Linked DNA regions of Homo sapiens: region 1 is linked to region 2. Evidence: fine-mapped expression QTL. Tissue or cell type: whole blood. Region 2 holds a variant in brackets; the other region holds the start of a gene. All regions are shown on one strand. Distances are from middle to middle.

Region 1 (2,611 bases), 41 kb before region 2:
CCCAGGCTGGTCTGGAGTTCCTGGCCTCTCAGCGCTGGGGTCACAGGCGTAAGCCTCTACCAGTTGAGCTGAGCATCTTCTGGTGCTTATTGGCCATTTGCATAATGCACTGGAAAAATATTCATATCCTTTGTGCATTTTTCAATTGTCTTTTTATTGTTGAGTTGTAAGTTTCCTCCATTCTAGATACAATTCCCTTATCAGATATGTAACTTACAAATATTTTCTCCCGTTCTGTGGGTGGACTTTTAATTTTCTTGATGGTGTCCTTTAAAGCACCGAAGTTTTTGTTTTGTTTTGAGATGGAGTCTCGCTCTGTCGCCAGGCCAGAGTTCAGTGGCACGATCTCGGCTCACTGCAACCTCCGCCTCCCGGCTTCAAGCGATTCTCCTGCCTCAGCCTCCCGAGTAGCTGGGATTAGAAGCAGGCGCCGCCAAACCCAGCTAATTTTTGTATTTTTAGTAGAGAGACGGGGTTTTACCATGTTGGCCAGGATGGTCTAGATCTCCTGATCTCATGATCTGCCCACCTCGGCCTCCCAAAGTGCTGGGATTTCAGGCGTGAGCCACCGCGCCCGGCCGCAGTAAAGTTTTTAATCTGATGAAGTTTAATTTATTCTTCTGTAGTCGCTCCTGCCTTTAGTGTCACTGCCTCGCCCAAGGTCTCAAAGATCTCCTGTCGGCTTCCAAGTGTTTTTTTTTTTTTTTTTTTTTTTTGAGACGGAGTCTCGCTCTGTCGCCTAGGCTGTAGTGCAGTGGCGCAATCTCGGCTCACCGCAAGCTCCGCCTCCCGGGTTCAAGCGATTTTCCTGTCTCAGCCTCCCGAGTAGCTGGGATTACAGGCGCCCGCCACCACGCCCGGCTAATTTTTTTTTTTTTTTTTGTAGAGACGGGGTTTCACCATGTTGGCCAGGATGGTCTCGAACTCCTGACCTCGTGATTCACCCGCCTCGGCCTCCCAAAGTGCTGGGATTACAGGCGTGAGCCACCGCGCCCGGCCTTTTTTTTTTCTTTTTTCTTTCTTTCTTTCTTTTTTTTTTTTTTGATACGGGGTCTCGTCGCTCTGTCGCCCAGGGTGGAGTGCAATGGCGTGATCTTGGCTCAATGCAACCTCCGCCTCCCGGGTTCAAGCGATTCTCCTCTAGGATTACGGGCGCCTGCCACCACGCCCGGATAATTTCTTCTAATTTTTAGTAGAGATGGGGTTTCACTATGTTAGCTAGGATGGTCTCGATCTCCTGACCTCGTGATCCGCCCGCCTCGGCCTCCCAAAATGCTGGGATTACAGGCGTGAGCCACCGCGCCCCGCCCAAGTGTTATTTGTAAAACGAAGAAACCAACATCGAGAGGGACGCTGACTCGACCCCGCGCCTTTCCCATCCGCACCAGCAAGAGGGGCCCCTGTGCCCCAAACGCGAACCGTACGGCTCCAGACAGCACCGCGGAACTCGGTGGCTTCCAGAAGGCCCCGCGCCTGCGCATTCCGCTGCCTGCGCCTGCGCCTGCGCCTGCGCCGTTCTCCCGGCCGCCGCCTTAGCACCTCCTCCGGACGGTGTCGCCGAAGTCTCGCGAGCCCGGAGCGTGGCACGTGGGTTGGTAACTGTGGCGCTGCTCCGCGTCCACCACCACCCCTGTCCTCCTCAGGCCCCCTCCGCCTCCACCCCTGCCCTCCTCAGGCCCCCTCCGCCTCCACCCCTGCCCTACTCAGGCCCCCTCCGCCTCCACCCCTGCCCTCCTCAGGCCCCCTCCGCCTCCACCCCTGCCCTCCTCAGGCCCCCTCCGCCTCCACCCCTGCCCTCCTCAGGCCCCCTCCGCCTCCACCCCTGCCCTCCTCAGGCCCCCTGCGTCCCCGCCTCGTCCTCCTCAGGCCCCCTCCGCCTCCGGCTCCGTCCTCCTCAGGCCCCCTCCGCCTCCGGCTCCGTCCTCCTCTGGCCCCCTCCGCCCCCGGCCCCGGCCCCACGGCGGGATGCGGGACAACACCAGCCCCATCAGCGTGATTCTGGTGAGCTCGGGGAGCAGGGGCAATAAGCTGCTGTTCAGGTACCCCTTCCAGAGAAGCCAGGAGCACCCGGCGTCCCAGACAAGTAAGTGAGCGCTGGGCGGGGGCCTGGCGCTCGCGGGGGCCGCCTCATTCCGGGGTCGCCTCATTCCAGGGCCGCCTCGCGGAGCTTAGCTTTTGCTGGGCATTCGAGATCTGCTCGTTGTAGAGTATTTGAAAAGTAGAAAAAGGAAAAAAAAAATTAAAATCATGCATTGTTCACCACACCAAAGCAACTACTGCTGACATTTCATCAGTCTCCAGCCTTTAAAAAATAAAGTAAAATAAAATAAAATGAGTTTGGGATGTATTCATCATGAGAAAATACAAAATTACACGAACAAGGCCGGTGGCGGTAATCCCAGCACTTTGGGAGGCCGAGGCGGGTGGATCACCTGAGGTCAGGAGTTCGAGACCAGCCTGGCCAACATGGTTGAAACTCTGTCTCTACTGAAAAAATAAAAATAAAAAAAAACAAATTAGCCGAGCGTGGTGGTGCGTGCCCATAATCCTAGCTACTTGGGAGGCTGAGGCAGGAGAATTGCTTGAACCCGGGAGGCGGAGGTTTCAGTGA
Region 2 (2,756 bases):
TTCTTAATTTAATTGACTTTTTTTTTTTTTTTTTTGAGATGTAGTCTTGCTCGGGGCTCAAGTGCAGTGGCACAGTCTCCACTCAGTGAAGCCTCTGTCTCCCGGGTTCAAGCGATTCTCCTGCCTCAGCCCCCTGAGTAGCTGGGATTATGGGTGCACACCACTACACCTGGCTAATTTTTGTATTTTTAGTAGAGATGGGGTTTCACCATGTTGGCCAGGCTCGTCTTGAACTCCTGACCTCGTGATCCACCCGCCTCGGCCTGCCAAAGTGCTGGGTTACAGGTGTTAGCCACCATGCCCTGGCAATTTAATTGATTTTCTGCAAGGAAAGAACTGAGCCCAGTCTTCTGGCACCACCTGTTCCCAAGTCCCCCAATACCTTGAACATTTTTTAATTATAAAAATATATCTGGGCACATTGCTGAAAATTTGGAAATGACAGAAAGCAAAGCGCTGCCTAGTTCCACCCTCCCCAGTCCGTGCTCTTTGCTTTCAATCCTAGCTAAGCATATTTTAATGTACTTTGGTCCCTAGTCTGTGAGGAGGATTTTGCTTTTCCCATATTTGGGACAATTTCCTTAGGAAAGATTCATTCATGTCTTCAATCAACAGATGTTTGCTGGGCGTCTCTGAGGTGGGATACAGAGTCCAGTCTTCGAGCCTTCCCCACTTTTGTCGTGTTTTTTTCCGAGGGTGACATAATCCTTGCAGGTTTTGTTTTTGTTGTTTTTGAGACAGAGTCTCACTCTGTCGCCAGGCTGGAGTGCAATGGCGCAATCTCGGCTCACTGCAAGCTCCGCCTCCCAGGCTCAAGTGATTCTCCTGCCTCAGCCTGCCGAGTAGCTGGGACCCCAGGTGGGTGCAACCACACCCGGATAATTTTTTTATTTTTAGTAGAGATGGGGTTTCACCATGTTGGCCAGGCTGGCCTCGAACTCCTGACCTCACGTGACCTGCCTGCCTTGGCCTCCCAGAGTGCCGGGATTATAGGCATGAGCCAGTCCTTGGCAGATTTTGTGAAGGCCTCCAAACAGACCACTGCCCTTTTCTCAAATCCCGCTCTTGGCCCTTCTCTCCGCAGTTAAGGGCCAGGAGGCTCCAGCTGCCTGTTTGTGTCCCAGGTGCATACCTGATGCACACCCGGTGCAGGACCTCGTGCAGGACCTGGTGCATACCTGGTGCAGGGTTCCCTGCACTTCGTATGTTCCGTGTGTTTGAGTCCCAGGTGCATACCTGGTGCATACCCGGTGCATACCTGGTGCAGGACCTGGTGCATACCCGGTGCATACCTGGTGCAGGACCTGGTGCATACC[C/T]GGTGCAGGGTTCCTGCACTTCGTGTGTTCCGTGACAGGTGATTGTTTTGCAGCCCCTACCATGCCCTGCTGCTGCTCAGTGATGAGAAGTCCTTGCTGGGTGAGCTTCCTATTGACTGCTCCCCTGCCCTAGTGCGGGTGATCAAGACCACATCTGCTGTGAAGAACCTGCAGCAGCTAGCCCAAGATGCGGACCTGGCCTTGCTGCAGGTATAGCTCTGGAGGCCCAGATGGGTGGCATGTGGCGGTGCTGGGGCATCAGGAAAGGCAGGCCGCCTGCCACAGTACATCCACAGGGGCTGTGTCCAGCTGAGAGCCGCGGCACAGCCCACCATGGGGTGGGGCCAGTCCCTGGGATGGCTGGAGGTTTTGGCATCTGAGTCAGACCTGGGTTCAGGGCTGGCTTTGTGAGTGAGCCACGGGACTGACTTGTTCTTCTGTCTCAGAGAGGTAAGGCGAGTCTGTGAGAGAAAGGACTGGGGTGCTTGCAGTCCTGGAGGTTGAGGCACCAGAGCTAGGGGGTGGGCAGGGCAGCAGCGGGCAGGGCCATGGGGGTCTCACAGTGGTGCATGAACAACATACGGGAACTAAGGGCAGGAAGCTTGGATGCGGGGCCCTCCCATGTGCAGAACAGAGACCTAACCTGGTGGCCTTACGCCCCTGTGTGTGCACATGTGTTGGCCTGTGCACTCTGTACAAGATGCCACGTCCTTGCTGAGCCACATGCTTATGGGCCTGTCCATGCAGAGGGCTGCCCTTTCTGATTAGATGGAGGGCCCCTCAGCCTCGTCTGCGGATCTGGTTGGAGTGTGGGAGGAAAAGCGCAGGCAAGGCTGGGCACGGTGGCTCATGCCTGTCATCCTAGCCCAGGACTTTGAGACCAGCCTGAGCAACATGGCAAAACCCCGTCTCTACAAAAAATACAAAAAAAAAAAAAAAAAAAATAGCTGGGTGTGGTGGCGTGCACCTGTAGTCCCAGCTACTTGGGGGTATGAGGTGTGAGGATCAATTGAGCCTGGGAGGCAGAGGTTGCAGTTAGCTGAGATTGTGCCACTGTACTCCAGCCTGGGCGACTCTGTTTCCAAAAAAAAAAAAAGCACGGGGAGAAATCAGAAGCAGGGGCTGCTGATGGGGTGGCCAACAGGCCATGGGATCAGCTGTGGCTGCTAGTCATGTGGGCGTGGCCCAGAGCCACGGGACCATTGAAATACTGCCTGAGGGTGGGAGCAGGTGGTGCCTGTGGGTGGCGCCCTCGTCTGGTGGCGGTGTGCACAGCATGGCCACCAGGGGGCAGCAGAGGCTGCCGAGGAACACAGGCGTGAGGTGGGCCCGCCTGGGTCCCTCTGGCTGAGCTTCCATGCTCTTTTGGCCTGTGAAACAGGTCTCTGCTTAGCACGTTAGGGGAACTTGTCCAACAAGGCCTGACTCTCAGGCCACTTT

Evidence for each region. PIP is the estimated chance that this variant, and not a neighbour inherited with it, causes the effect.
Region 1: it holds the start of NPRL3, and the variant in region 2 is fine-mapped to the expression of NPRL3 in whole blood (INTERVAL, PIP above 0.99).

The regions. Positions count from the first base shown.
Region 1 is chr16:137,622-140,232 of GRCh38, reverse strand. It overlaps NPRL3 (NPR3 like, GATOR1 complex subunit), which reads left to right and starts at 1,560. Exons shown (of 14, transcript NM_001077350.3): 1 at 1,560-1,591; 2 at 1,899-2,083. The coding sequence starts at 1,966. RefSeq lists an enhancer at 1,631-1,680 and a silencer at 1,901-2,130.
Region 2 is chr16:96,915-99,670 of GRCh38, reverse strand. It overlaps NPRL3 (NPR3 like, GATOR1 complex subunit), which reads left to right. Exons shown (of 14, transcript NM_001077350.3): 9 at 1,370-1,526. Among named protein-coding and RNA genes, the nearest start is that of MPG, 20 kb to the right of the region's middle. The variant C/T (reference allele first, on the strand shown) is at 1,317.